Linked DNA regions of Homo sapiens: regions 1, 2 and 3 are each linked to region 4. Evidence: fine-mapped expression QTL. A gene starts in region 4. Each other region holds a variant in brackets. All regions are shown on one strand. Distances are between the middles of the regions.

Region 1 (8,000 bases), 420 kb before region 4:
TTTCTCTGGCCTCACAGACAAAGGCGCTGGCGGTCTCCCAAGGGCCTGCTGCTGGCTGCTGGGCAAGGGTTAAGTCATCCATTAATTCTCCCAGCTTGGAATGCTGGATGATCTCAGTTGTCAAGGGGGAATCAATCACTTTCTGTGGCTGCATTATTCCTCCTCTCCAGAACAGGAGCCTGTCTGTGTTCTCTGAGAGCGACTGTGGGGGAAGGCTAATGACAAAAACCCTCGCCACACATGTGTGTCTTGCTCTGGCTTCTTGAGGAGCTAGTCTAGGATGTGTGGGTTTCTCCTTTCCGTGATGCTCTGCTGGAGCTCCCGTCACGCTGGCTTTCCTCTGCATCTGTTCATTGCCAGCAGCTCTTCCAGCACAAAGCATACACAGCAGGCCTGTAGCCTGGTGGGAATGCGGGGCTGGCTGGTTCGGGACGGTTCGGGCCGACCCACTCTCCACCTACCCTGTCCACTATAGGAGAAGCTGTTCAAACCAGCTATCGACGTCAAATATCCTCTCTTCTATCCCTCTCCACCATGCCCCACCTCTGTCCTCAAGACAGTCCCCCAGCCTGCTCATTAGAAGAAAAATTCATTTTTCATAGCCTCCTCAGCTTGCCTTGGTGGAAGGCTAGAAGGACATTTCATTTCTTTTGCCTTGAAAATCCGTGATGACATTTTCCTGAAGTTTTCATCAACATCTTACCTGGCCCTAGCTGAGATCTCATTTCCATCAAGGAGCAGCTCTTTTTGTTTGTTTGTTTGTTTGTTTGTTTGAGACAGAGTCTCACTCTGTTGCCCACACTGGAGTGCAATAGCATGATTTGGCTCACCACAGCCTCCGCCTCCTGGGTTCAAGCAATTCTCCTGCCTCAGCCTCCTGAGTAGCTGGGACTACAGGCATGTACCACCATGCCTGGCTAAATTTTGTATTTTTAATAGCAACAGGATTTCACTATGTTGTCCAGGGTGGTCTCAAACTCCTGACCTCATGATCTGCCCGCCTCAGCCTCCCAAAGTGCTGGGATTACAGGTGTGAGTCACTGCGCCCGGCCTAGCAGCTCATTTTTAGAAGGAAAGTGCCCTGGGGGTGGGCATCTGTTTTGCTGAGCATTTGAAATTTATCTGAATGAGTGGGGTCAGTCCAATGTCCTTTCCAGTGAGAGTCCTAGAATGGAGAACTTTACCATCCTATGCATTTTGCAATGCTGGCATTTTAATTGCTTAGTTTTACAACAAACATACAGTTCTTTTGAAATCAAGAAGTTAGATCTCACTAGAAAAAAAACCATAAAAAGCATTCCATGTCTATACCTTGTTCTCATAGAACCTAAAAGGTAAGTGATGAGGACATTTGAGCAGGAGGACTGATCATAATGCTGTCATGTCAAGGATGTGTCGGGGCTGGTCTCTAGAGCTCACTAACACCAGTAAGCGTTTGTCTCAAGGACTTTGGATAGACTCTCCTGACACACAGATGGAAAAGCACCTCTCCTCAGTAAAGATGACTGTTTCAGCCAGATCTAGTCTGACTCTCATTCCCTGAAGCTTACTGATGCCTGTTCTAACTAGGTGGCTGTTTCAAAAAATTCACCCTTTCAATGGACATGATTTCACTCTCCTCAACCATTTTTTCTGCCCCAATGAAACTTTACCTTAATCCAGACTAGTTCAAAGAGTGAGAGCTAGGCATCTCTTGAGCTCTGCTGCTGTCCAGTCCAACTTGGGGATTACACCCCAGAGTGAGTGGCCACACAGGCAGCACCCTGGCTACCTGGAGGTACCTAGAGGCTCACGGCAAGGCTGCAACCACCATTCTCACAGCTCTCCAGGGTCCCCACCTGGTGCTGAGACAAGGGACTCAATTTCAGTCTCTGAGAGTACAGACTTGCTGTGGCCGATCCTGTCTTGGCCACAGTTCCTTTGTGGATTGAGATCGATGACTACGCTGCACAGAAGGAGCTGAACTGTGAGGCCTGCCACAGAGGGTGGGCTTGACCAAGGATTCCTATTTCCACTTCCTAACATTTTAGTCCTTGTGCCTCTTTGTCATGATATGTTGATAAAGCCATCCAGGCAATCAACCTAGTCACTCTGTCCATAAGACTATTATACTTTCTGATGAGGCCATGGCTATATTTTTCAAAAATGAAGTGGCACCGACCCTGGGCACCTGCCAACAGTCAACTGAGGGTTGGCTATCACTTTTATTCTCCTTGCTGGTTAACTACCCCTCTGCTGCTCCTCTCTAAAACCATTAACCCTCCTGTCGTTAGGAGCTGCCTATGGGCTGCCAGAAATGCCGCTGGAGGCACAATACTCAGCGTTTCTTTCCTGAACCCTTGAGGGGCAGTTGATGGACACTCTGATTAGACCTCTTGAAGCTGGGTGGTTACAGCGGGGGGAAAGGAGATTTGCTGGGCCACATAAAGCTCCAACTCAGAAAGATCCTTTTCTTTATTTTCATAAACTTGACAAGGGGGAATGTCTGAGCCAGAATGGCAAGATTTACAAACAAAATTACTATAATTATCATAATTATGAAAGGGGTCTGGTGCTTTGGGACTTTATTCTAAACCCACGTTTAACATAAAGCAGTCTAATTGCATCAGGTTCTAAGAATGTGGAGTGACAAATGAATGCCTCGTGTGTGGTTCTTCCATCCTCGGAGCTGCTCTGATTTGGGCGGGAGGGTAAAAGTGATTTTTTAAGGAGAATTGGGTGACATTGGAGCTAAAGACCTCTGTACTTTGATGGGAAGATCCATTTGAGACTGAAATTAATTTAAGAACCATTCTTTGGTGAGGTTATCCTTGGAAACAATGACTCTGTGTTTTGAATTTATCTCAATCTGCAGAAAAACAGGATCCCAAATTAAATTTCTCTAAGAAAACAGTCTCAAAATCAAGGCTAACCTGTAAGTTCAAGTACTTCTAACAAATATTCAAAAGCTAAATAGATGGTGATAAAATTGTTCTCCCTCCTGACTGGTTCTAAATTTGTCTCTGATTCAGAATAAAACCACAACATTCTTTTTG[G/C]GGGTAGGGAGGTTTGAGCAAATGATCCGTAGCACAAACCTCATAAGCTACTGAAACAGCACACATTTCCTGTCAAGCAAACTCTTATGTTCACTAATAAAACAACACAGCATCACTGACAACATGAGAACTACATTTCTATACTAAATAAACACACAAATTATAGATTATACACATCTGGAAGAGTCATTAAGAAGAGCATCTGCTTTCTGTGTTTACACAGTAGAATATGGTTTTATGAAAAAAATTATAATCTGTGCTTCACTGAATGAGACAATTGTTGCTGAAGTAAAGAAGAATCAAGTCCCTTTTGTTTGTGGGCACCTGGCTGAGTGCATTACTGGGCATGTTCCCTCTCCTGGGACACCTGGGCCAGTAGAGGTAAATGGAAGCGCTAAGGTAGATGGCGGGTCCCACCAGGGGAGAAAGAGAGAGGGGAACATTAAGTTGCTTTCCAGCACCAAGAAAGCATCAGTATTTCTCCTCTGGCTCTCAACAGTCAATCTATCTTTATGCAGTTCTGGTCACTTAGTCTGCAAGTAGACACTGTTTTGTTATGTCATGAGATCCAATGTGGGAAGAACAATATGCTCGATGCTAAGATCCCGGGTTCCCATCCAGGTTTCCCTCTTATCACCAGGCAGGTCACTGACATTATCTCTGAGCCAAGGTTTCCTAACCTGTGAAAATGGAGTAAGTTACCCTTCCAAGTCTTTCACGATTTGGCAATTAAGTAAGAATCTCTAACAAAGTGTCTTCTAAACTGAGGACTGGTAAATAAAGGGAAGGCATTCGTGTTTTTAGGGCTTTGGTGGCAAGAAATGAGAAGGTAAGTAGAAAGGGTTTTGTTCTGACTCTCCACTCCCATCCAAAGAATGAAATGACTTCAGCAAATTATGCTCTGCAAGGTCTTCGCCGCTCTCTTCCTAGCTTCCTTTTTCAAGCACCCACTTTAATTTCCTAGATTCACAGACAGTGAACTTGACCTCAGGTTCATGACTGAGTGCCTGTAAGCATGTGCTGTGAATGTGGCATCATTCCATGAGGCAAAAGAGATGAGAGGAGAGGCTCTTGCCTGAGAAGAGCTTATAGACGATGGAGGCACAAGAAGACAGGAGAGTGATGTCTGGAACTAGGATGAGCTGGGCTGGGCCTTGGGACCAGAGGGACCATTTGGAGCAAACGGCTCTTGGCTACCCTAAGTGCTTCCTGGAAATGAAGACTTATAAAGAAATGGAGAACAGAACAATGCAGAGAAAATGGATCTGACAGAAAGGTAGGTTTGCATTCCATCTCTACCACTTTCCACAGCAAATCTCTCCAATCTCGACTGCAGTTTCCACATTGGCAAAGTGAGAGGGCCACTTTCTAGCTCTTCTGTTCTGATCTTCTGACTCCTTTTTGGATGGAGCAGGCTGCATGCCAGAAGCCATGTCTGCCTTTTCCCAAGCCACACAGTCCCCAAGAGCTGGGTCACTGCACACCAAGTCCAGTGAACAGATGCCATGTGGACACACGCCCACCCCAGAGCAGAAGGCTGAGCATTACCTGGTGTGGCTGTTGGAGGAAAGGCTCTCCCAGGGCTGCACGCTGCAGCCGGCCACGGCAAAGGCTCCCCCACAGCTGCCGTCCAGCTTCATGAGCAGGGCCTTGGCAGCGTTCTCAGCTGTCTTCCGGCAGTCATGAGCTCGCTTGAGCATCTGAGTGATGTTTTCATCCCCCGACTGGTCTCCTATGTGGCAGAGAAGCCAACGGATTAATCAACATAGGCCTGGACAAGGCACGCCTGGGAGGGACTATGCATAATTAACTCTGTTACTTAGGGCAGAGGTGGCACTGTGGAAGGGAATTGGCAGTGCCCAGCCGAAGAGAAGATCTGTGTTCTGGGCCTGGCACTATCACTTAGACGCTACATGTGGGAAGGTATTTCTCTGCTCTTTCTCTGGGCTCCACTGGCCTCAGGGACAAGTGTAGGAGTTAACCAATGGGATCACCACATTTCTGTTTCCAGCTCTAACACGCTCTGATTTTTCTAATGATCCAGGCTCCTGGCTTCTCCTCCCATTCAGCCACAAGTCTACCATTTGGCCATTCCTCTGTGCATTGGCACTTCCCTGTGAATGAGGGAGGGAGAAACTAGGGCAAAACTGTGCCATCTTTCCACATGTCTACAGCTTTGGTTAGAGCCCTGTGTGGGGGCAAGAGAGACAAAACTAATGGTTCAGACGAGAGCTTTAGATTGGCTCTGTATTATAGGTACCGATGCCACCCCTGACCCTTCTCTTGGCTTGGTAATCGGCGTGAACTCAAATGCCTCCAGGAGCCAGGTAAGTGGGCTAGTGCAGAACATCAGGGTGTGGTGGGCACTCGCACAGACCAGGCAGTGAAGTCCCTGCCCAAAATGTTCACATTCCTATTGTGATTTAAGACTGTGCTGGAAAAGACAGAACTATAGAGATATTGAAAAGATCATGGGTGGCTGAGCTGAGGTGGGAGGACTGCTTGAACTTAGGAGTTCAAATACAGCCTGGGTAACAGAGCAAGACCCTGTCTCCAAAACAACAACAAGAACAACAGCAACAGCAATGGTTGCCAGGGGATGGGGTTGGGGGAGGAATGAATAGGTGGAGCCAGAGAACTTTTGGGGCAGTGAAGCTACTCTGTATGATACTGTAACCGTGGACTCAAGTTGTTATACATTGGCCCAAACCCATAGAATGTACAGCACCAAGAATGAACTCTGATGTAAACTATGGGCTCTGGGTGATGATGTGTCACTGTAGGTTCATCACTTGTAACTAATATACTACCCTGGTGGGGGACGCTGAAAACGGGGGAGGCCGTGCATGTTGAGGGTTGGAGGCATATGGGAAATCTCTGTGCCTTCCTCTCAGTTTTGCTGTGAACCTAAAACTGCTCTAAAAAAACAAAGCCTTAAAAAAATAAAACAAAACAAAACAGAAACTGTGCTGGCTGAACAAATCACTGGTTTGCTACCTGTACAGCACAGATCCATGCTTTTCCAAATATTTTTAAATGAAATCTTACACCAAATCATAGAAAATGCTATCCTAACATACAAAAAAGGTAAATGCGGAATTGGATGAAGTGGGCAGAAGTGGGAGACACACTCAGAGTCCCACCCTCCAACCCCACTGCCGAGGCCCAGAGAAACTCCTCCAGCTTCCCAGACCAGTTTGAAAACCACTAGCCTAAAGCACCTGTGAATGAAAGAATGAACAGAATGAATGCCTGTGACATCAACAAGAAACAAAGAAAAGACCCACAATCATAGATACTGTGGGTGCATGTCACAAATGAGTTCCTGCTTTGCTGTGCAACAGCTCTATGGCATGATGGGTGGCATGATGGCACAGTATGATGGGCCAGCCACTCCTGTCAGCGGAATGCAAGGGCGAGGCTTAATGGGGAACTGCTAAAAATCAAGCCTGCCCTCAGTACTATGGAGAGTGGGCAGGAAATGGGGTGGACCCATTCTGCAGGCCAAAAATCCCTGGAACTCCCTCCTGTCATTTCTCTGACAAACTTCATGCCTCTCTTCTCTCCACAAATAAGACATTTTACATACATCTCACCACTGACTGCTATTTGGAATTAGGCATGACATTACTTACTGGCTCATATTATAAATGTATACATGAACTTCCCAGTATTAGGTAAATACAAAGCATTTCATTATTGATTTTGAATATTTAAAAGGCAGATTTATTTAAGCTCTTTCAGCTCCTACACCAAATAACTGCACTGAGTAGGTACATGCCTAATGAAAGGTACCTTGTGAGGCCTGAACAGGTTAAGACACTCCGCTGATAACCAACTGGAAATACGATTGACTTTTTCCTTTAATTTATCATTTTTCTTAATACGTATATTAATTTAAAAAAATCCTGACAGCAGGCCAAGATCATTTTAGGATCTGTTTCATATGAGAAATAAAGTTTTATGGTTCAGTTAAAAGACCCTGAAAAATGAGGTTTCTAATGGAAATGCTGGCAGAGTTTCTACTTCTGGGCTGGGCTGGTAATACTATTTAAAAAAAACCAGAGGGAGGATCAGAGCATCACTCTCCATACAAATGAAGGTGTGCTCCTTTGTTGGATTACTTGGATATGAAGCAGGAAATTAACACCCAGGATACCTTCCTTCCTTCACTTTTGCTTCAGATTCCTGTGCAAGTCGAAACTGAAGGAGGAAACACATGTGAGTGTTCAGTGCAAAAGTGAGCCCCCAGACAAAGGGGGAGGAGCGGGGAAGAAGGACAGGAAGGTGCATTCAGAAGGTGCCTGGATGGTGACTTTCTTTGAAGGGTGTGTCCTGGATGGACAAGTCCTAATGGAAGCTCACAGCAGAAATCCAGTCCATGACAGAGGCCTGGCTACCACACATGGGAATGCCTGGCCTGCCCACACCATCCATCTTTGGCTCTGGAGAGACCTGGTCACCTTGGCTTTCTGTTTACTTGCTATTGCCTCTCCGAAGGCTAAGGGGGTGTCCGGGGCTTAGTTCTGCATGGAGAGACGGCCACCTTTCTCCTTGGGTCTCTCTTTCCTCTTAGCACTGTTTCTACTGCAGTCCTCCCCACATCACTGCAGGCTCGGAGCCACAATCACTGGCCACGTTTTAGCAAATGCTGCCGCTTCCTAGAATGACATGCTTGTGTCCAATTAGATACTCCTTCCACCTTACTCAAAATTGAGGGACAGAAGTGAGCAGGCAGTGCAGATCTCGAGGTACAGGTCAGGCCAACAGGGCACAGGATCCCCGGGCTGGGGGAAGGACAGGCACAGGAAAGCGAGGTGGGCGAGCATTCTGTGATGCTGACAAGAGCAGGGGGTGAAACTACTTCTTCTTTGTTCGTAAGACACCTGGAGACCTGGCAGGGGAAACCCATGTTTCAAAACTACTCAAAAGCCGGGCGCAGTGGCTCACGCATGTAATCCCAGC
Region 2 (8,000 bases), 270 kb before region 4:
ACCCTTCAGGCAGTTCACAGCAAGCAGTGTCCTAATAAAAATATTTAGTCATAAAAGAGAACAACGACATAACCTGAAGACTGCTTGGACCCTTAATGATGAAAGGCTGACTGGCTACACTGACAAGCGGCTTTGACAACCTCACGTCAAAGCACGCGGGTAAGAGAGAAAAGGCAAGCTCAGGGCTCTTTTCAGTACTGAGAGTGGTGGGCACAGTAGCTCTACTTCCCTGTTTCTGAAGCTGCCTGCCTAAAAAGTAAGGTTGGTTTCTAATTCCTGACACGTGTTCTCTTTCATACCCACTCACAGTGAATGACAACTTCCCTTTGTTGCCTCTGTCACTCAGAATTCTGTAATTCACTTACCCAAAGCTACTTTGTCCGAAAGAGGACAGACAAATCAGCTAATCCTTAAGTCCTTTTCAGCACTAAAGAATTTCCCTGCAGGGTGCATCATTTATTTTTTTTCTCCACTTCCTAAGTCCTCCTCATTCCTAATGCAAAGAACACAACATGAGGGACCCAATCAGCCAAGTCCAGAATTTGTAGGACTGATGTTTTTTGCAATAGTATTATTGTCTCTCTCATTTCCCTCCTCCCACCCCTGTCCCCATATTCCGGACTTAAAATACAAGGTCACGCACAATGGTGTGAATTAACAAAAATCCAAGGCCACACACTGAGCAGCTCCAACTTCAGCCATGAAAAGCATCCTGGGCTACGGCCAATGCCCTCCTCTCATTCCCCTGGTGCTGCTTTCAAAGCCACAAAGAACGACGGAGCTGAGAAACAGCCCCACTCAACCACCAGGCCACATCCCAGTGGGGAGACACTACCACATGCTCAGTCCTCTGCCCAGAGATCCTTTCTCCACCACATTCACAAACTCTGTTTAATCAAACTCCATGAACTGAGTTGCCTTGCGTGTTCATTCGCTGCGCTCCTATACTGGGTGCCATGGAACAATGGTAGATCCTTGAGTAGCTTATAGGCAAACTTGAGAATCTAAGAGATAAATACTTAAAATGTAAAGTGATGTGTACTAGATCATAGGAGGGCATGAGATCCTATAGCAGGCTAGGTTTGTTTCTTGACTCCTTCTGCTTCTTCATCCAAGCCCCAGCCTTATCAGTATCAGTGCCTAAAGGCTTCTGCAGCTCTACACCACTCCAACTTTACTCACTCAGTTCAAGTCATCAGCATCCTCCTCCCAGATCACTTGGATCTGCTAATTGTTCTTACCACTTCTAATCTCAACACCCTCCAAGCCATTTTCCACACTGTAGCCAAGCGCACCTTCTAAAGCTCAAGTTTCATGTGGTGGCCTGCCCATTCTCCATGTAAAAAATATCAGACAATGGCTCCTCATTGCCATCAGGATAAAGCCCACATTGCAATGCCATTTGTAACCCCTTCTACCTTCCCCATGCTCTACTGGCACCTGGTTCAGCCTTACTGGAAAACCTGCAGTGAGGCTGAACCTCCAAATCCCCATGCTCAACCCTGCCCTTGGGGCTTTGCACACAAACCATTTCCCTTACTTGGAACACAATCCCCATTTCCCTTACCTGGAACACAATCCTCATCTCTCCCACCACCCCCTTTACCCTTTACTTGGCTGGCTACTGCCAGCCCTTTAAGTTTGGGCTCAGCTATCACTTCCTCCAGAAGCCTTTGCTGACAACCCTAGGCAGAGGTGAATGCATCCTCTTTAGGTCTCTGCTGTCAGACTTCCATGTTCAACTACACTGTATTTTAGTTGCTTGGTATAATAGCTTGTCTATTTCCTCTACTAGACTTCAGACAACTTGGTGGGGGGAGGAAAGGGAGATTAGAATGGAACCTTAAGAGATGTTTCTTAATATCTGTTGAAAAAAGGATCTCAAGTATGACTTGTTTACCTGTGTATCTTTGTCCTTAGCATAGTGCTGGCTATGGTTTGAATACTGCACCCTTCAAAATTGAGGTATTGAAACTCAGTGGCCAATGTGATAGTGGTTAAGGGTGGGGGTTGGTCTTTGGGAAGTGATTAGGTTATGAGGGCTTTTGCCCTCATGAATGGGATTAAGGCTCTTATAAAAGACGGTTCATGGGCTGGCGGGGGAGGGCGGTTCGGCTGACTTGCCCTTCTGCCTGCCATCAAGTGAGGACACAGTGTTCTTCCCCTCCAATGGATGCAGCATCCAAGCCCTCTTAGAAGCAGAGATCAGAACCTCAGCAGACAATAAGCCTGCCGGCGCAATGATCTTGGACGTTCCCAGCTTCCAGAAATAATAAATAACTTTCTGTTCTTTATTAGTTGACTAGTTTCTGGTATCCCATTACCTCTCCCTTCACTACGAGAGAGCCTCAGTTACTATCTCCAGGCCAAGTTGAAGCCATTAGTTAGTCATTCTACAAATATTTAGTAAATGCCTACACTCAGTAGGGGCTGGAATGACCACACTCTGATCTCTCAAAGAAACCACCAATCGCTTTGTTGTTCAATCAAAACTGTTGTTTCTCAGTTATATCTTGTTTGATGGCAAGCCCTTCTCCTTTCCCTGTTCCAGAGGTCAGGAAACTATGGCCCATGAGCAAAATCTGACCTTCTACCTGTTTTTGTGAATAAAGTTTTATTGGAACATAGGTATGCCCCCTTTATTTACATAGTGCCTATGGTTGCTTTTGCTGCAAAAATGGCAGAATTAAGAAATTGCACCAGAGACCATATACCCTGCAAAAACTGTAATATTTTCTGCCTGGTCCATTACAGAAAATGTCTGCCAACCCTTGCCCTACCTATTATAACTTATGGGTTTCCTTCCTACCTTTGTGACTGTGACTGGACAGGCTCTTGTTATTCTGCTGCCCAATGAAGGTATAAGAAGTCCTAGGAACACTAGCTCCCCAGGATTCTGTCAGTCTGCTTTTTAACCTGACACGTTCTTTGTCTTTCTAAGATGGTTCCCATGGCCCCTGAACATCCCTCCATCAGTGACCTATAGTATAAATAATCTGTAAGCATTTTTGTCTTCCCCAACAGACGTGGCTCCTTGAGGACAAGGCCCATGTCTTACAGACATAATTCAGCACAGTGACAGGCACACAGTAGCCATCAAAAAATGTTAACTAGGTAGATGAGTGTTTACAAGGTATTTTTAAAATAACTATATTTAAAGGCTCCTGACAAAATGACTATATTTAAAGGCTCAGCCATAGTCCCTTGGTGAGAACACAGTCATTCAACTGATGAAATTTCTATTCTTTTGTATCAGTTTTGACTTGCCTATAGATGGGTGACAAAGTAGAAACCCCGAATAGGGGATTTCCCACTAGGATAAGGGTTGAAAGTCTGACTCCCGTTCACTAGCTGTAGGATCTTAGTTAAGGTGCTCACTCTCAGTTGCCTCCTCTGCAAAACGAAGACAATGAAATAATTCCTCTATCTCACAGGGTGGCTATGAAACCAATAATATGTGTAAAATGCCCACTACCTTTGTCAAGCAATTTTGGTGCTCAATAAGTAGAAACAATTATTACTATGGACAAAGTCTTCTGCCTTAAGGCTCCAAGTACACTGACAATGAACATGGCTAGGGTCGTCTCAGCTATGTTATAGCATCACACTTGATCTTTTCATAGCAGGAGCCCTGATTCAGGTGGTAGTTTCATATTTTAAATTATGAAAACAAGCAGCTAGGTCTTATATTAATACTAATCCTTCAAGATAAAAGACCAAACTCCAAAGGAGGAGCTTCTCTCTCTCTCTCCCATAAAGATTCATTGGTTAAAAAGCACTAGTGGTGATACTAAATTGAAGCATCAACAAACTGTTCTGTAAATTGTCTTTTCCTGATAGAATTTACCATAATTTGTTTTTTCAGCTATAGCACATAGCTTGGAATGTAATGCACACATTTTGAAGAGTAGACATTTTGATAATCAAAAGGACAATATTAAGTTGATTTTTTATAGCCTTATTACTGCAAAGATATTATTTTCTAAGCTAATGTACATACAAAACTTCATCTTTCTTTAAAGGTAAGTACATGGGGGCTAGAACAGAGATACTTGAGTTTTGTATGCATCAAAACAAAAACAGGGAGTAATACCAACACATTTAGCAAAAAGTAAAAAACAGATCCCACTCGTGTATGAAAATTTTTGGAGGAGCTGGGAATCAAGGAGGAAAGTGGGGCTCCAAGCTAATCAGGGCAAACTCTGCCTTCCACCTGTGCCCCTAATCTGATGCTCCGGTTGCATGACATGACTATGACGGATGGCCAGGGTGCTGTCGTTTATCTTTTGGAGTGAAACCGGAGAA[C/T]TCAGGCAGAGCCCAGTGAGCACTTCTCATGAAAATGCTGTCCTATCTAATCCCAGGAGACAAGAGAAACACTGAGAGGTCAGAAAGGACATGAGCACATGAGTGTGCACACCACGCCTGTATGTTCCTTTCCTCTTCCAACACATTTTCGGGGACTGAGGAAGTGTGCCGCACATATCCCAAACAGAATTTCTCAGTATTTTCTGCAGTTTGATCTGTCCCATGCTGACCAGACACTGTAAATAGTTTAGTTTAGAAAGAAGCCAGAAATCCTAAGTGAGCATCTGGCTCTTAAGAAGCCAGAAGGATGGTTGCACGGGGGTGGGGGTGAGGTGGGAAACTGGGGGGAGTATGGAGAGTGGGGGGGTGGGGGAGCCCTTTACCCAGCTTCTCTTACTCACGAGCACTGGCGACAAGCGACATTGGCTTATCGCCTCAGCTAGGATAAATAACTCTAAATGTGTGCTGGGTAGGAGCTTTCATGCCCTGGCCTTCAATAGTTTTATTCTTTCACGTCTCTAACGTCTGCAGCTTCCTGAGATTGGCTGGTATTTTTGTCACTGGGCTTTCGGGCTGGGGGCTGGGCAGAGCTGAATGTCAGGCAAGGGTAAAGGGCACCTGTGATCTGCTGAGTGCCTCCGCTTTCTCCTCCTTGTTCCTGACATTACCGCCCGCTCAACCAGGAGGGCAGAAGGTGGGTCAGAATAATCAGTTAAGTGTATTAGGGTTTTCTCCTCCTTCACTACAAATCCCACAAGTGCAACTAATGAGACAATGCCCAGAGGTAGAAATGAACTTCATAACACCAAAGTACGGGTGTATTTCAATTTATGCGAGTTAAAAAATGTTAAACAAGAAAAGCAAATAAGTCTCAGAGCTGTTTTTTCACATTACAAATGGAACTCAATACAGATTTTAGAATATAAATATCCTCTCAGGCATTTAAAATAATGTGTTCACAAGGCTTTGATTTGCACATGATGTTGGCAATATCTTTTGTGCAAGATAGACTTGGGGAAAAAAATCCTCAGTTTTAAATTTTTAGTTACTTTCAAAATAAAAGATGTAAATTAATAACTATTCTTCCGAATAGAAGGGGACGCATTATAAGAATAGCTTTTGAAATAATGTAGAAGAATATCCACAGAAATTCTCAACATCGTATGGATAATATGAAATCCGTGTTTTGTTTTGGTTTTGAATGGGAGTAAAGGTGAAGAGTCTAAAAAAAGAAATTTTTTAAATTCCTGATATAACAGAGAAATGCAGTAAAACAGCAGGTTTCAAACTGTCCTCTGGCTCTCGAGAGTGTTTCCAGGTTTCTACAAACAATAAAATATTGGCTGTTAAACCCAGAATAAAACACCCGAGAAGATAATAACAAGTTCGCTGCTTTTCCTTTTGGGTTGTTTTAAATGTTGGGGTGCTGAAGATTTCATTTGAACAAAGAGTTCTGTTACCAAATAAGTTTGGAAGCTATTGTTTGGGAGGTGCCGTGCAGTCTCTGTACACAGGAAGGTTAAAGGAAACGGCCCTTGGCAATGAATTCTGGAGGCCCTTCCTGGGGGGCCCTGAACTCCTGTGAGGACTTCCAATAAAAAGTCAGTAGCATTAAGAATCAGCAATTAAAATTCAATGATCAGCTGCTATGTTTAACCACAAATGTATCTAAAAAGCTGGTGTTAACATGTTTTTATTTTCCTAATAGCTTATTTGAAAAAAGGTGATGTTAAAACAGGATCTCAAAAATAGATGATTTTGTATTACGTTAGTAATAGTATATTATTGATAGTCTATAATCATTGCTTTAAAATTTCAATAATAGGTCCCAGTTGGAGGACCGTATAATGAATTCCCTTATACCGATTTTCTCTACTTTTGTATATGGCTGAAACTTTCCATAATAAAGTGAGGTTTGTTTTCTTAAAGTCCCAGCAGGCCAGAAACTATGTTAAAGGCTAAATTTCATGTCCCTCAACCACAGTGGACAAGGTTTAGAGGAGTGCTATAAAGAGAATATTGATTCCTCTTCATCCAGTCCAACCTGGCCTTCAGAATGACTCCCACTAATGTTTTTCCTATGCCATTTTCTACTGTATACCACACACCCAACCAACTTGGTACAAATAAATGTGACTCACAACATCCTCCCGGTCAGTGCCAACCCCTTATTGAAATTAGATAGTATACATCCTCCGGGTTCATTCTTTTTCTAAGTTAATTTGGCTAATAAAAGTCCTTTACATTTCCATGTTAACTTTGGAATCTGCATGTCAATTTCTTTTTCTTTTTTTTTTTTGAGACGGAGTCTTGCTCTGTCACCCCGGCTGGAGTGCAGTGGCGCAATCTCGGCTCACTGCAAGCTCCACCTCCCGGGTTCACGCCATTTTCCTGCCGCAGCCTCCTCAGTAGCTGGGATTACAGGCGCCCGCCACCACGCCCAGCTAATTTTTTTGTATTTTTTAGTAGAGACAGGGTTTCACCGTGTTAGCCAGGATGGTCTCGATCTCCTGACCTCATGATCCACCCACCTCGGCCTCCTAAAGTGCTGGGATTTCAGGCGTGAGCCACTGCGCCCGGCCAGCATGTCAATTTCTACTGAAATGTCTGCTGAGATTTTAATTGAGATCTATAGATCAATTGAGAGAATTTATATCATAGCAACATTGAGTTTTCTGATCTATGAATACAGCAGCTTGCTCCATTTATTTAGATCATTTCTTTTATTAATGTTTGTATTTTTTAGTGCACGATCTTGCACATCTGTTGTCAAATTTATCTCTAAGTATTTCATATTTTTGACAGATTATGATACTGTTTTAGAATTTCAATTTCTGATTGTTCATTACTAGAATACAGAAATATAATGGATTTTTCTGTATTTCCTTGGTATCTTGTAACCATGTAAAATTCACTTATTAGTCCTAACAAAACAGTTTTCTTTGTAGATACCGTAGGATTTTCTACACAGACAGTTATGTTATCTTTGAATAAAGAAATTTTTACATTTCCCTCTTAAGATCTGGAAGCCTTTTATTGTTTTTCCTTGCCTTACTGCACTGGCTAGAACATCTAGTGCAATGTTGAACAGACGTGGTGAACACTTTTAGTTGGCACCTAATACTAAAAGAAAAGAAGCAGTGAGGCCGGGCATGGTGGCTCATGCCTATAATCCCAGCACTTTTGGAGAGCAAGGCGTGTGGATTGCTTGAGCCCAGGAGTTCAAGACCAGCCTGGGCAGCATGGCAAAACCATGTCTCTACCAAAAATACAAAAAGTTAGCCAGGTATGGTGGTACATGCCTGTGGTCCCAGCTACTCAGGAGACTGAGGTGGGAGAATCACCTGAGCTGGGGAAGTCAAGGCTGCAGTGAGCCGTGATCGTGCCACTGCACTCCAGTCTGGGTGACACAGTGAGACGCTGTCATAAAAGAAAATAAGAGAAAAGAAGTGGTGAACACAGATGTGCTTGCATTTATCCCAGTCTGGGTGAAACCACGTTTGCAAAAATTGTAACTGAGACAGTGAAGGAGACCTGAACTAACCAACTCCATCTGCTTCTAACCTTCAAGCTGTCTTTGTCCATTCCTGGGCACAGGACAAACTAACTTTGGGAGGAACTTAGTTTATGGTTTAGCTTTGAAACGAAGATGATAACAGCCCTTTCCCAAAACAATTCCCCTTCCTGCCTGGGGA
Region 3 (8,000 bases), 430 kb before region 4:
ATATATAAGGGTTCAGTATTACCTGTGGTTTCAGGCATCTATGGGGGATTTTGGATCATATCACCTGTGGATAAAGGGGGCCCTATTATACCAATAAACCAACAAATGAGGGCTGCCGTGTGACAGAGGATTAGACGAAGGAGGTGAGAACAGTATCAGTGGACAACTGCAGAGATCACCCCTCTGATGTGACTGTGATATGTGAAAAGGTTCAACTATTACATAAAGTGAGATTTGGTATTTCTAAAATGTAGACCTGGTTTCATTACACTCAAAATGTCACCTTCTTAGATACCTACGAATGGCCTGCATTTCCTATGCAAATACAAGAACTGAGGCAGCAGGGCGGTGAGGTGTGGCCAGTGGTCACTGGGCAGTCACTGGGCAGTCACTGAGCCTAAGGGTGTCCCCAAGCCACTCCGGCCCTACCTTGCCAGGTTTGTCTTTGCTGCCGCTGCTGGTGGAGCTGAGGGATCGCATCCGCTGCTCCTTCTGCTCCTCCACCTCGGACTTCAGGTGCTCAATGTGCACCAGGTAGGCCTGCTCCTGGGCCTCCCGCGTGCTCAGCTTCAGCTCCAGGGCCTTCTTCTCTTTCTCCAGTAGGTAGAGCTGGGCCTTCAACTCGGCCATCTCCTCCTACAGACAAAGGAGCACAGAGCACATGAGGCATGCCCTATCTGAGAGCAGGCCTGGCTGCTGCCAAGTGGGTGGGTGGGGGGTCCCCGGCTATGACCCACAGGCCCATGGTAGAGTTCTCACTTTGAAGTTGGCAGTAGGATGAGTGGGAGGAGACGTGGCACCTGTCACCACACTTCTAAAGGAATGACGTATGGACAAGGCCATGCACTTTGTCAGTCTATGGACTAGACCTGAGACAGAAGGGTAGAAGTTACAGGCAAGATTGTGGTTCAATATAGGGAAAACCTTTCTAACAAATAGAGCCCCCACTCAGGCACATGGGCCTTGATGGAAACCCATTCTCTGGTCTGCAGAGGCTGAGCTGCACCTGCCAGAGGCTGTAAAGTCACCTATCCATGGAAGGCCTCTTCTGGCCAAGCCCCTTCCAATTCCCATTTTGGTTTCCATGGCACCAACCACATGTTTAATCACACCCACGGCACCTCTGTTGCCCTGTAGCTGGGCCAGGCATGCGGCGAATGCCTGCAGCAGCATCAACCTCCAGCTCTTGCCTACTTCTCAGGGCCCAAATGAAATCAATAGAAACAGCATCCTTCACAGGTGACTGCTCATCAGACAACTTCTAAAAGTATCCTAAGAACTCAAATGAGAGCGATGAGTGGAGAATACGAAGTGAATCCAAAATAGGACAGTGCCATCCTGGGACCAGGAGCCAGTAACAATGACAGCCAGTAGCCTTTACTGAGCACGTGGCACTGTGCTAAGTGTTCACATGACGTGGCTCATTTCATCTTCCCAACCTGGGTTAGGTATTGCAACTATCTCCATTGACAGATGGGAAACTGAGGCACACAGAAGGAAATCCCCCTGCTTATGGCTACTGGGTAAGCTGTGGAGCCACAGATTGCAGCCAAGCTGTCTGGTTCAGAGCTATACTGCCTCCCTCCCTTTCAAGGTGAGCCCACGCATGACTCTTGTCCCCGCACTTCTGCTGGAGAGTAACTCCACCAGCCCATGGCCACCAGGTCCAGCCTTCCCAGCCCACCGTGAGATGGACTCACCTGAGGTTAGTTCAGATTCTCACAACCCCCGAAGTCACCCTTCTGAGGTAATAAACCACAGGCCTGGTGCACTCTCCTGGGTAAGTTGGACTAGGGGGTAGATGTTTTCACTCTCAAATGTGGGGAAATGGGTAGAGGACACCCCTCGAAAGGGACATTAGTCAATATGCTCAGTAAACTACTCAGAACATGCCAACCTTCTTTACCCTAAATATCAGACATAAAAGCCAGAATGAAAGGTGTGCCACGCCCAGAGCCTTCGGATCTTTTGCCATTGGAAGCAGGATTCTGAAGGTTCTGGCAACACTGCATACTGAGCTAATGTGATGGTCGCTTCCAGAACAAACATATAAGTGCAGGCTTGAAAGAGGGAAAGAGAAACCTATGGGTGCCAGAAATGAAGAGGGAACTCTGCCAGAGAGAACGGCAAGGAGGGCAGGTGCTGGCCAGCAAGGCGTCAGACTGTCCTCAGGCCCTCCACCCGGGGGCTTAACATTACCCAAGGCCAGGGCCGTGGCCTCTGAGGCAGAGAGCCACAGCTCAGACCCCTACGGGAGCAGGATTCTCATCAGGCTGCCCATAAGACACTAGGAAACTTCCTTTCTGGAGATGTGACAAGTAAACTTGTCATCTCTCAGGCTCTGTGTGGGAAAAGAAAGAAAAATCTCTTTCCAGGAATTAAACCTCAAGCTTGTGTCATGTGTAGGTGTGGTACAGGAATCCAGAGCCAAGAACTTAATAACAACTAGTCCTAAACCTCAGAAACTGATGAGTCCCAACAGATCTAAACATAGAACCACTCTGTAGGGACATCTGCAACCCAGGATCCTCAGGGCCCCACGGAAGACAGTTTCCACAGAGGATGAGCTGGTGCTTGCATTCTCTCCCCCTACCCCCACCACCGAGGAAATGAGAATGAATCAGCACTGACGAAGAATGAGCGGATGCAAAAAGTAAGAGTCAGCATTTACAAGAAGCAGAAATAACAATGTGCAAAACTAGAAAATAAAGATTTAAAACAAAGTGATACAGGAGTCATAATGAAGGGATAAGATGTTCAAAAAGGAAGAGAAGGCCAGGCCTGGTGCCTCACATCTGTAATCCCAGCACTTTGGGAGGTTGACCTGGGTGGATGACTTGAGCCCAGGAGTTTGAGACTGGCCTGGGCAACAAAGTGAGACCCTGTTTCTACAAAAAAATAAACTTAAAAAGTCAGCTGGGTAGGGCAGTGCATTCCTGTAGTCCCGGCTACTCGGGAGGCTGAGGCAGGAGGATCACTTCCAGCCCAAGGGCGAGGCTATAGTGAGCCATGACTGTGTCACTGCACTCCAGCCTGGGTAACACAGTGAGACCCTGTTTCAAAACAACAAACAAACAAACAAACAACAACAAAAAGAAGAATGGATTTGAAAAGGAACCAAGCACATCATCTAGAAATGAAAAGGTATTACAAAAACAGAAATTTGAATTTCTCAGCAGTTGGATCCTAGAAACTGGTGAAAATCCAACGTAACCTGCTGGATAATGGATTTGGTATGGGTGAGCACACATCCCCAAGCAGACTGGGAGGGACTCAGAGGAAAAGGGGACGGCTCTGATATTTAGCCTTCAAGAAAGTCATAGGGAACCAAGCCAGAATGCTAGCAATGGCTGCCCTGGATCATGATATTATGGATTGTTCTCCTCCCAGCTTTTCTACTTTTTTAGAAAATTTCTAAGATCAGTACACATTTTATTTTCAAGTGGCAAAGGGAGTATTAGAACTTTTATTCCAACAAAAATGTCTTTCTTAGGTAGAATACCAGTAAATTTATCACCCCACGTTGGCCAATTTTAAAAAGGAAATCCTTAGTCTTTGGCCAAAAGAAACACAATGTTTGGAACAAATGATGGAAGGGTGGCCTCATAGCTCGTGCCACAGGCTGCAAGCATCTGCAAACAGGGCTCCCAGTTGGGGGAAAAGTCGCTACAATGATGGACCCAAGTCTAGCTCATAAGCAATGAGAGGTGGAATCAGCCAAAGCAGCATGAGGATTCTCTACAGAGAGGTCAGGATGGGAGCTGCGTGGCTTGATGAAGATGAGCCAGTTTGGAAATCATGGGGGTGGGGGTGGGAGGTAAGATTCCTGTATCTGTTACCACTGCCTAGTGTCTTCCCAAACTT[C/T]GCCCAGATTCTAGCTCAAGAAGCTCCCAAGGACAGGGCTGTGCTGAGTGAGTCACCCCTGAGGGTGTCAGGATGGCTGCTGTTGCCAGCTCCCCTCCACTCTCCAGAGATGGTGCGACCAGGGGGTTGTTTTTCTCCCTGCTGCGGACAGTACTGATCCTAATAGGAGCCATTAACTCTGCACTGCCACGACCTGCTCTGGCTTGCTAGACTCCAGTTCCTGACCGGTCCTAAACTCAATCTCTGGCTCTCTTCCCCTCCCCGGAGGTCAGGTGGCTGAAAGTCCCAATCCTCCAACACACGCCTGGTCCTTCTGGTGACCAGCCCACATTCTGAAGCTGTCTAGGGCCCACCATAAGTCACCTCATCAGCATCACAAAGACACCCCTAGCTCAGCAAGAAACTCCAAGGGTTTCTCAAACTCTGTCCCAAAACCAAGGACAAATATCAGATATGGTCTTATTTATACCACAGCTGCCTTGTAAGAGCAGGTACCAGGTGAAGGGCTGGTGCCTGGCATTCCACACCAGAAACAGGCAAAGTGATGTCTTGTTGTAGGTATGGCGGTTTAACTACTTCCCAGTAGGGGACACCAGCTTTCCAAGAAAGCTCCCTTCTGTAGAAATACCAGCAGGTAGGTATCTCCACTAGCAGCTGAAGGGCCCAGTGTTTCAGATCCACTGAAACACTGACCTCAACAGCACTGTACACCTTCACTGGAGGGCACTATGGTCTGAGCAGGCTCGACATTGCACCAAAGGTACAGGGTGTCAGGAAACTAGGGCTCTCGGCCAAACTCTACAACTGGCCTCACCCTGTTCTCCCCCTGCCGGAGTTAACATCAGCATCAGCAACCCAAGACATATTTCCAAGCATTCTTGAGATTAGGGGTCAATTTAGATGGACAGAGGCTCCACCCTGCAGAGGTCTGACCTGGCTTCTCTTAGAGGATGAAGGGCTCCAAAGTTGGGCTGGGACACCCTGAGAAATCCCTTAGAAATTCAACTCCCCTGTCCAGAAACACGCAGCCCAAGTGACCCCCAGACATAGTGAAACCAGCTCTGTCTATAAACAAGGGTCTAGCTCTTCTCTGGGCAGGAGGGGTTGATTCCTCCTTATCTGCTGGACCTGCTTTCAGAGGTTGTTTAGATTTCCTCCTGGTGGCAGCCTAGCACATGGGACCCACCCACCACATACCTTCATGGCCATGAGCTCCTGCATAAGCACTGCGTTTTCCAGATCCAGCCTCTGGCTGTCTCCCCGAGGCTTGACGTCATAGCTGAGAGGATCGATGTGGATGCTTTCCAGCTCCAGCATGGTCAGCTTGACCGCAGCCCTGTCATTCTTGAGCTGCTGGATATAATCCTTCAGCCTCTGCTCGTCTTCTTTAGTGAACTCGGTGTCGCAACTACTGGCTGTGGAGCTGGTTGTGCTGAGAAAGAAGAAAAACAAAGACCCACCACCCTGTGTTATTCCAAGTCATGGCAAATAGATCTTTCCTCCTCACTCTTCTCCACATTCCCTCTCCCCAGTGTTATTTAGATGGTAATCCAAAAATCAGTTTTCTTCACAGCATAGGAAAATGATACCACCTTTTAGGAAAGAATTAAGTATGAAGAATAACAAATGCTTACACTCCTTGACGCAACACTGTGGACTCTAGAAATGAATTTCTAAGGAAATAATTCCACAGAAGCAAAAAGATACACATACAAAGGAACATAATCTAAAATACAGTTTAGTGATTTATCACACCTATCAAAAGGAGGGAAATCATGTGGACATTACAGTGATAATTGTAATAAGTGAAATTATAGTGATATCGACAATGGTGGTGATATTTTGAGGACATAGGTTAAAAGATATTATATATGTAATAAAAAAGATACTCATGTGGTCAGAACTTAAAAAAGGTATATTTAAGGCAACAAAAGTTGAAGCACAAAACTCCTATGGCATGATCCACAGATGCGTGTCACACCCTCGCACGTGTACGCAGGTGTCCCAGGCTGTGGCAGCCGTCCCTGCGGAGCAGCACCGAAGGGGGCTGTTTTGCTGTGTTTACTTCTGTTGTTTGCAACATGTACCATGAAAAACACAGGGGTGCACAACACAGCAATAACCACTTTGGGAGTAGGGTACCCCCTGGCCTTCACAGGATAGTCTGAGTATAGTGTTCACTATAGGGACTCGGGCTGGCCCAAGGGCCCTTGGCAGCCCAAGGTGAATGGTGACCAGGCAGGGAGCCCCCAGCTGAACCCCAGGCCTGTGGCAGCCCAGGAAGGTTTCTAGGGGACCAAACCACCATGAAAGGGGGAGCACCACTGGAAAACGGAGGCCACGGCTTTCAAGTGGGCTCTGGCCTTTTCCAGCAGTGGGCAGGCTGCTCCCCGTGCCTCCGAATAAGGCCCACTCCACTCGGTTGAGGACTCTGAGGCCAGTGTGCACCGACAGCAGTTTCTCTGCACTTGCACTGGGCCTCCCTAGGGGTGACTCGCCCCTCATGGAACTGGTCTGAAGATGGCAGAGGAAAAAGCAGAGGCCTACTGACCTTGCATCAAAACAGGCCAGGCTGTGTTGTCATGTCTGTTGCTACAGATTTGGAAAGTGAAGCTCAGAGACATCAAGTGGTCAGCCGAGTCATGCGACTGGAAAGAGGTGCAACTAGACTTGGGCCGCAGCCTCGTCCCACAGCCCTGTCCTTGTCCCCAGAATCCTGTAGCTAGAAGCTATACCAGGGGCCACGAGTGATCTCCACAGGCCGCCAGATGCCACAAACCCAGGCCTGCCCTCCTCATCTCACACTGCAAAAGGGTAAGAGCCAGGACCCCAACTCAGTAGCTGTAGTCCCCACAGCCTAGACATGAGTGAGGGCAGGCCCACTCTTGTACATGACACATTGCTACGAAGACAAGGCTTCCGGGGAGAGAAAAGCTGAAGAGAGATGGTGGCTGGAGCTTTGCTGTTCACAGGAGGAAGAGGCTACCCTAGGGCTTGGGGTGGTCTTCAAGTCAGAGAACCCCTTCTAGAATGGGAAACTCCTGAGCACTAGAAACCCTTTGGGGCTGCGTCTCACTCCCTCTGTACCATCAGGACGGGTGGGAAGTCCCTTGGAGATAAGGTAAGCTAGATCAGCCTGACCATTAAACACCATCTCTTCAGAGGCTATGCCCAGTAAGTTCCCACGTCAGCTGGGCTGGGCTATGTGCGCAGTTGCTTGGTCAACCACCAGATTAGGCATTGCTGCGAAGGTGTTTGTTACATGTGATTACCATTAAAATCAAGAGACTACAGGGAGACTGTTTCCATACAGTGAGTGAACCTCGTCTAATCAGAGAGGCCTTAAGGGGAAAGACAGGTCCCCCAAAAGGGAAAAAATTCTTCCTCCAGACAGCTTTCAGACTCAGGATGGCAACATCAACTCTTCCCTGGGTCTCTAGCCTGACCTGCAGACTTCAGATTTGCCAGCTCCATTATCAAATGGGCCAATTCCTTAAAATAAATCACTGTTTGCGATTTACTAGAATCTATATCAAGAGATCGATCTTGATCTTTCTATCTAGGTATAGATGTCTCCATATAGACCCACCTCCTATTGGTTCTGATTCTCTGCAATGCCCTAAGAGCAAAGTGCTACCTTTACGTGTGACCCAAGCGTCTTACATACTTTGAATATTCCCTGTCTTCTCATCTCTAAAATGAAGGTAATCATAGTACCTGCTTCATAAAGTCAGGGTAAGGAATAAATGAGGTAAAATTAGAAGTGTTTGTAATAGCAAAGACATGGAATCAACCTAAATGCCCATCAGTGGTAGACTAGATAGAGAAAATGTGGCACATATATACCACGAATACTATGTAGCCATAAAAAAAGAATGAGGTCATGTCATTTGCAGAAACATGGATGAAGCGGGAGGCCATTATCCTTAGCAAACTAATGTGGGAACAGAAAACCAAATACCACATGTTCTTACTTATAAGTTGGAGCTAAATGATGAGAACACATGAACACAAAGAGGGGAACAACAAACAATGGGCCTACTTGAGGGTACAGAATAGCAGAAGGGAGAGGATCGGAAAAAATGACTAATGCATACGAAGCTTAATACCTGGGTGACAAAATAATTTATACAACA
Region 4 (8,230 bases):
GGTTATGGGATTAGAGATCATTTTGATCTTATTTTTGTATATTTCTATATGTTTCCAAATTTTCAACAACAAGAGTATCTTTTATATAACCCAAAAGAAGTTATTTTTAAAGAAAAAATATCTTTAATAAAATATACACATATCCTCAAAGACCTAAAGACAGAAATACCATTCAACCCAGCAGTCTCATTACTAGGTATATACTCAAAGGAATATAAATCGTTGTATTATAAAGACACATGCACCTGTATGTTCACTGCAGCACTGTTCACAATAGTAAAGACATGGACTCAACCTAAATGCCCACTGATGATAGACCAGACAAAGAAAGTGTGGTATGTATATGCCATGTGATACTACACAGTCATAAAAAAAAAACTAGATCGCGTCCTTTGCAAGGACATGGATGGGACTGGAGGCCATTACCCTTAGCAAACTAACACAAGAACAGAAAACCAAATATCACATGGTCTCACATATAAGCGGGAGCTAAATGGTGAGAACACATGGACACATAGAGGGGAACAACACGCACTGGGGCCTATCAGAGGGTGGAAGTTGGAAGGAGGGGGAGGATCAGGAAAAATAACTAATGGGTACTAGGCTTAGCACCCATAACTAGTCGGCACTAGGCTTAGTATCCATAACTATAGTGGGCACTAGGCTTAGTACCCATAACTAATGGGTACTAGGCATGGGTGATGAAATAATCTGTACAACAAACCCCCACGACACAAGTTTACCTATGGAAAAAATCTGCACATGTACCCTTGAATTTAAAATAAAAGTTAAAAATATACATATTTAAAATATTACATAAATATGGAAAATATCTGAAAATGAAAATGTTTGAAACATTTTCCAATATACATGAACATACCACTGTTTATTCTTGGTCACATTTTCATCAGAATTTGCTGATTGTGTGCTACATGGTAGATACTGTGCTAAGTACTGAGTACACTGTTTTTGAGAAAACAGATATGATTTCTGCCCTCAGGAAGCCTACATTTAGTGACAGAATGACAATAAACAGGCAAAGTAGCAAACAGAAATGGAATTATAAGTTGTAAAGGGCACTTTGAAAGAAAGCAATCAGTACTATGATGGACAATAACGGCAGGATAAAGCAAATCTATTTTGATATAGTGGTCAGGGAAGCTCTCTCTAAGGCATCAACATTTGAGCTGAGACTTGGGAACTCAAAAATGTTAAGCACTGGCTTTCAATATTTGTCAAAGGTATGTTCAACATAAGCAGTTTCTTATATTGAACGGTAAAAACAAAAAGCTTTAAAATTCCAAAGGGAAAATAATTTCAACAAATAGAGTAACCTCCACCACCTTCTATAATATGGTATGCAGGGTCCAAAAAATCCAGTACCATAAAATATGTGGTAAAGTCATTGTAAGGTTAATGAAATGCACTGAAAGAGCTTACGGTGGTCTCACTCTGCTGCCCAAATCCAGCGGGGTCCCAGCCGCAGTTTGGAGCTACTTGATCATAGCTTTCTGTTCTACCTTAACTATTGATGGGGATGATTCTGGGTCCCTTTTATAGGCTAAAGTTCCTTGGCAGAAGCAGCAATTCCAAGAATCTAGTTAGCTGATGCCTTTTTTGTCAGCCTGATAGGAAGACTGGGCCAAGAGAATATTGAAAGCACAAAGCACCACCCCTTACCTCCCTGACATTTCCCCTCACGGCCCAGTTTCTCTTCCACTTATCCTTCCCCCACACTTAAGATTTCCAGCCTACTCCTGTTTAGAATGAGGGTTCAGCGGAGGACCAGAGCAAATATACTTGAATGTGGATTATCATGGGATGGGGGGTTTATTATAGGTATTAACCGCTACTTGCCCACCCAATATCTATTTCCTGCTCTTAGTAACAGAACCCAGATTTTGTTTAGGAGGTAATGTGCCTAGTTGAATTATATGCTTCCTCGGACTCTACTGAAGTAGGCATGGTTAAGTGATGTAGTTTGACCAATAAGATGTCAATTAAGGGATTTGGGAAAGCTCTGCTTTAATGATACAGGCACAACTTATTTCCACTTCCTTTTACATCTTCTTCCCTAGAATTTGGGGATGAAGAGGGAGACAGGGCAATCACCTTTGGACTATGAGATAACCATGAGGATGAATGCTTTATGTGAAAAATGGTGTTGGAGAAAGGTAGAAGGTAGCTGGGGACTGACACCACCGCAGAGCTGCTGCCCCAACCTAGATAGCCTACCTCCAGATTTCTACTAGGTGACAAAGCCAACCCTTACTTGACTATGGTTAGGTTACTGTGATGACATATAGTCATCTGAAATTCTAACAGATACAGCTGTCTACCAGGAACATAAATTTAACGTCTTTAGATGAATCCAAAGTTTTTAAGGTTTTAATGTTAAAAAGTCCAACTCTCATGTCTGATAGAACAGGAATGCACAACCCTCCAAACCACATCACCCACTACAGAGTGGTAAGTACAGGTCATTAAATGAAAGCAGCACAGAAAAGTGGCTTCAGAGAGGGAATCATTTAATGCCCCTTACCTTCATTAGCCCCATTCCCCAAGTCTTACCACATAAACGTAAATTCCAGGTAAAACTGTGCTTACCAGGTAAACACACTTCCAGACAAGTTCCTTGTTGCCCTAGATTGCCATCCCTAAACTTCTCCTACATGGCAATTCTGCCACAGCATAATTTTCAGGGCAGCTCCACCCACAGTTAAAGTTATGATTTAGGGTTCATTACTACACATACCTTGAAACTTTTAAGCAGACACATTAAAGTAATGCAGCTCAAGGAATGTTAACAACTTTTTCCACTTTTGCCCCAGCCAGTTTCTACTCTAATCCAAAACGGCTTCTTTATCACCACCCACTTTACTCAAATTACGCTTACAGAATTCATTATCCTCCCGGGTAGAATCACCGAAAATAATGTGAGCATTTATATAGAAAGTGTAGTTCAGATAAAGCAATATATTAATAGGCCAAATTAGAAAAGGATAGCACGCTGCTAGTTTTCTGTATGCACTCTTGCCCGTGTGAAATTAAACTTTTTTGCATCCATGCGGGGAGCGGTGGCTCAGGCCTGTAATCTCAGCGCTTCCTAAGGCCGAGGCGGGCGGATCACTTAGGGTCAGGAATTCGAGACCAGCCTGGCCAAATTGTGAAGCCCCTTCTCTACTAAAAATACGAAAATTAGCCGGGAGTGGTAGTGGGCACCTGTAATCCCAGCTACTCGGGAAGCTGAGGCAGGAGAATCTCTTGAACCAGGAGGCGGAGGTTGCAGTGAGCCAAGACCACGCCACTGTACTCCAGCCTGGGTGATAGAGCGAGATTCTGTCTAAAAAAAAAAAAAATTGTATCCAAAGTTGGAGTTTGCCTTTATTATTGCAAATGAGATAATAACCTTTCAAGTAGGAAAACAACAAAAAGGAAAACTATATAATGAAATTTCTTTTACTCCCAGAACCAAAATAACGAGACTTCCAGATAGAAATTTGCATGGAGTCAATCAGAATTACATATTATTTTCATTTCCGAACAGAATTACTCCATCAAGTTTTCTGATATCTTCCTAATGTTTCTCAGTAAAACTTTAGCAAAGTAATAAAAATTCACCTAAGAATGATCAAAATTGCGTTGAGTCCCAAATAAATAATTTTTTTTATTTTAAGGGAAAAATTCCGCACTTTGCTTTCTTTTTTTTTTTTTTAGGTAGGCAGGGACAATCAGGAAGCAGCCCCGGATTTTCAGAAACGATCTTTAGCATCACCAAGACATAGACTAAAGAAACATGTAATGCACAACTTAGGCTGCTCCTTCATCCAAGGCAATTCAAATTTCCACGGATACCAAGTCTTCAATGGCCGGTGTCAACCATTCAATAGAAGCATACCAGAAAATGTTGCGATTGCCTTCTTCACCACAAGAGTCTAAGTGACACAAATTTGGGCAGAAGTAATTATTTGGCCAAGCCGGGAGGCAGGAAGCTTAAATACCGCCTCTGTAGGAAGTGCGGGGGATCCGAAGCAAACACCCCAAAGTTTGTTTGTGAGTGGAGGCGCGGAGGCGCCCGGAGCCACGCCGAAGCTCACCTGGTCAGCGCACAGAGCCGGGTAGGAGTCGGGTCTAGCCCTAGTTTGCTCCTGAGCGCTTCGTTCCTCTCAGGCTACTGCGTTTAAATCAATACTGGGTGGCAAACGATACCCATTCTTTGGGCTCTGAAGTTTGGAATTCATGGGTTCTGCGGCACAAGAAAGTTTCTTCACAGGTTATTTCCCTGTCCGAGGCTGTCGCTTAGCTCATCTCCTCCCGGTGCGGCCCTGGGGTGTCCACCAAGCCGCCGGGCAGATCGCTGCCCCGTGCTGCGGCATCTTGATGCCCAGGACCCCGAGGCTGTGGGGCAGCCCCTCCTACCTGGGACAAGCGGCCAGAACTCCTTTTCCCACAGGGAAGAACACTCCAAGCCCCCGGAAGAGTGCGCATCCTAAGGAGATGTCTCCCAACGCCTAGACAAAGACAGCGCTGGGAAAAGTTGGACCAACTGGCACCCCCGCAAGGCGAACAGAGCAGTCCCCTCGGCCTTCGTGGCCGAGCCGGCTACGCGCTCTCGGAGTCGCGGCCAACTTTTCCCGCGAGCTTCTGAGCAACTTGCCGCAAGTTGGGGCGAGGGGGCAGAGCAGGGGTCAAGGGCGCGCGGAGGGACTGATCTCGCTCCTGTCGGTTTCCTCGTACCTCCCCGCGTACCTGCTGATGTATCCGTCCCCGTCGCCGTCGCACGTCTGGAAGAGGCGCCGCATCCTCTCCTCCTCGCCGGTGCTGGACGTGTCGCTGCTGCTGCTGCTGCTGCCGCTGCCGCCGCCGCCGCCGCCGCTGCTGGAGCTCCCCGCAGCCGCTGCCGCCGCGGCCGCCATCATGCGCCCGCTCCCTACTTGGGAGGAGGAGTACGCGCGACCGCAGCTGGAATCCGCGCGGCGCGCAAGCTGCCTGCAGCCCCGAACTTGCCTGACAACGGAGCATGCCCAGTGGCCGCCGGGGCGCTCCGGGCGAGGGATTCCACCTCTCCGGGTTTTGCCCGGACTGGGAAGATGGGCGCTCTGGAATCGCCCGAGGAGGCACCTCAGGGAAGAGGGAGGAGGGGAAGGTGGCTGGAAGAGTCAGGGAGCTAAGGGTGGCAACGGGAACACAAGAGGAGGCAGAATACACTGGAAGCCCCCGGGAAGGGTGTCAGCATTGTGCATCCGGCAACGACGCGGGCCCGGGACACTTGGGGACGCTTCAGGCAGAGGGCAGGTGTACTCCCGGCAGACCTTCTCCGACCGCCCGGAGTCATGGCTTCCTTTTCCAGAGAAGCTATATAAACACTCTCCTTCTGCAAACTCAAAACGGTGCTTGTAATCCCACTCTCCAGGATTGTTCCGGGTTCTGTACCCATAGCCACCAATGAGAACCGGAATGACTGGCCTTTTTATGAAATTTTGACACCTGTCAAGAAACCTGGCCCTCGCAGCCCTCATCTTGGCTCCCACTCTGTACTGGGAAGAGTCTGCACGCTGTGTGGCATTGTGTACGTTGGGTCAATTTCTGGAAACGGCTCACTCTACTGGCCAGGCATCACTAGAATTTCCCCCAACAGCTTTAATAATGCCAAGAGCGAACATAATAGATGGTCTCATTTGATCCACACTACAGACCTGGAAGATGCCTCTTTTATTATCAATCCTACGACTTAGGAAGTATTAATAGATAAGTACCTCATAGAGTTATCTTACATATAAAAGGAGAGCAGACATAATGCAGTTAGGACAATGTCTGACACCTAGTAAGTGCTCAACAACTGTTAGCTCTCATTGTTCCCAATTTACAGGTAAGAAAACTGAGGTACCAAGACCTGCTCAAGGTTCCAGGTTTAGTAAGTGTTAGGGCAGAGGCAAGCCCGGGCAGCCTAACTCCAGAGCAGGAGCCTTTAAACACTGCACTATTCCCCCATAGCCAAAGGGAAACCACAGTGAAGCAATTTGTGGTTTCGTGAATGACTCATTATTCTGTCCTGGATTTTCTGCCAGAGAGGCGTGTGAAGTTCTCTGGTGGTTTTAAAATATGTCCACAGATTCTTTGGTGCACCCCTCATCAAGAGGTGGAGTCTGTTGCTTCCCCTAAACCTGGATTGGACTTGTGACTGCCTTGACTTCTGAGACTAGGTTAGAAAAGGCAATGCAGATTGCACTTGGCTCTCTCCCTTGGGACACTTACCTTTGAAGCCTTGAGCTGCCTGAAAAGAAGTTTGGCTACCCTGAAGCTGGAGAAACCATGCAGAAAGACCATGTAAAGAAAAAAGGAGATGACCAAAGAGCTACAGCTGTTCTAGCCCTGGATCTTAGAATCTTCCCAGACTAGGTGCCAGACATGAGTGAGAGATGATGCTAGCTCTAGATGCTGCAACTGCATTGGAGACCCTGAGCAAAACTGGCTAACCAACCCCCAGAGCTGTGAAGATAATAATTAAAAATTGTTGTTTTAAGCCATTAAGTTTTGAGGTGATTTGTTATGCAGCAATATATAACTGGAACAAGTCCATATGTCTTGGGAATGTCTGCTAGGTCAGAAGGAAGGAATCTCTGCTCTCTTTCTCCTCCTCTCCACCCCATCTACCTATTCCTACTTTACTTCTTTATTATTCTCTAAGTTCCCAGTATTTCAGGGCACTAAAATCATAGATTCATGAGTTAATGAGTTAATGGGTTATCATGGGAGTGGGACTAGTGACTTTATAAGAAGAGAAGGAGAGACCTGAGTTAGCAGGCTCAGCCCCCTTGCCATGTGATGCCCTGCACTGTTTTGGGACTCTGCACAGAGTCCCCACCAGCAGGGTGGCCCATTGACCTTGGACTTTTCATTCTCCAGAACTGTAAGAAATAAATTCATTTCTTTATAAATCACCCTAGTTTCAGGTAGTCTGTTCTAAGCAACAGAAAATTGACAAGACCAGAAATTAGTACCGGGAGTGGGGTGTTAACGAAAACGAATACCTGAAAATGGAGAAGCAGCTTTGAAACTGGATAATGAGCAGAGGCTACAAGAATGAAGCAGCAGTCTAGAAAAAGCCTAGGTTCTAGTGAGGGCTGAGAAGACAGGAAGAACAGGGAAAGTTTGGAACTCCTTAGAAATTGGTTAAATGGTCATAATCAGAATGCTGATGGAACTATGGACAGTAAAGGCCATTCTGACAAGGTCTCAGATGGAACTGAGGAACAAGGTACAAGAAAATGGAGTAAAGACCATCCTTGTTATAAATTGGCAAAGAACTTAGCTGAACTGTTCTATGCCTGAGGGCTTTCTGGAAGGCTGAACTTGAGAGAGAGAAACTGGGGTATCTGGCCAAAGAAATATCTAAGCAGTAAAGCATTCAGGCTGCAGCATGGCTACTTTTAACCACTTACATCAAGCTGTGAGAGGGGGAAAAAAACTTTAAAGGTGGAATTTACAATCATAAGAGAAGCAAAGTGGAAAGATTTGGAAAACTCTCAGCCTGGCCATGTGAAGAGTGAAAAGGTGTGTTTGGGAGAGGAAACCAAGGGTGTAGCCCAGCAACCTTTTGTTCCAGAGATTAGTAAAGGAAGAAAGTATCATTACGAGAAGGAAAGACCTCGATGGCATTTCAGAGAACTTTGAGTTGTTCCTCTCATCACAGACCCAGAGGCAGGAGGACAGAATGGTTTCAGGAGACAGACATGAGGCACCTTTCATGGGCTTGCTGCCAAGGTCTCTCTCAGGTCTTTACTTCCCAAATTCTGGTACAGTGCTTTTTGGACATGCCAGCTGTGGCTCAAGAAGCTTTAGGTGTGAATTGACCTGTCACTCAAGAAGATGAGAACCATAGGCCTTAATGGCATCCATATGATGCCATTATAATTCTTCAGGTTTGCAGAAAGCGAGAGCTGTGGAGATGTGGGGTCTCCACCTAGATGTCAAAGGATTTTTGCTGAAAGCCTGGGTCCAGGCAAAGGCTTGTAACAAGGGCAGAGCACTTCAGAGAGCTCCAACTAAGGCAATGTTAAGCAGAATTGTAGGGTCAGAGCTGCTGCAGAGAGTTTCCAACAGAGCAATGCCTAGTGGAGCTGTGGGAACAGGGCCACTACCAGAACCCCAGAACTGTGGAGTCACCAACAGCATGCAACATCTACTTGAGAAAGCTTCAGGCACCAGGCTCCAACCTGTATGGGCAGCT

Which allele goes with the higher level. Alleles are on the strand shown, and positions count from the first base shown. SD is a standard deviation of normalised expression in the study named. Not every link is listed here.
In carriers of allele T in region 2, the expression in skeletal muscle of the gene that starts at base 4,958 in region 4 tends to be lower than with C alone (small effect, 0.39 SD a copy in GTEx).

What was found. PIP is the estimated chance that this variant, and not a neighbour inherited with it, causes the effect.
Region 1: its variant is fine-mapped to the expression of MCC in blood mononuclear cells (TOPMed, PIP above 0.99). The same link has a PIP of 0.9 or more in whole blood.
Region 2: its variant is fine-mapped to the expression of MCC in skeletal muscle (GTEx, PIP above 0.99).
Region 3: its variant is fine-mapped to the expression of MCC in whole blood (INTERVAL, PIP above 0.99).

Annotation. Positions count from the first base shown.
Region 1 is chr5:113,059,401-113,067,400 of GRCh38, forward strand. It overlaps MCC (MCC regulator of Wnt signaling pathway), which reads right to left. Exons shown (of 19, transcript NM_001085377.2): 14 at 4,584-4,767. Among named protein-coding and RNA genes, the nearest start is that of DCP2, 87 kb to the left of the region's middle. The variant G/C (reference allele first, on the strand shown) is at 3,036.
Region 2 is chr5:113,213,472-113,221,471 of GRCh38, forward strand. All of the region lies in intron 3 of MCC (MCC regulator of Wnt signaling pathway), which reads right to left. Among named protein-coding and RNA genes, the nearest start is that of TSSK1B, 220 kb to the right of the region's middle. The variant C/T (reference allele first, on the strand shown) is at 4,306.
Region 3 is chr5:113,048,664-113,056,663 of GRCh38, forward strand. MCC (MCC regulator of Wnt signaling pathway) reads right to left here. Exons shown (of 19, transcript NM_001085377.2): 15 at 5,062-5,296; 16 at 430-636. Among named protein-coding and RNA genes, the nearest start is that of DCP2, 76 kb to the left of the region's middle. The variant C/T (reference allele first, on the strand shown) is at 3,865.
Region 4 is chr5:113,483,496-113,491,725 of GRCh38, forward strand. MCC (MCC regulator of Wnt signaling pathway) reads right to left here and starts at 4,958. Exons shown (of 19, transcript NM_001085377.2): 1 at 4,750-4,958. The coding sequence starts at 4,919. RefSeq lists an enhancer at 4,857-5,151.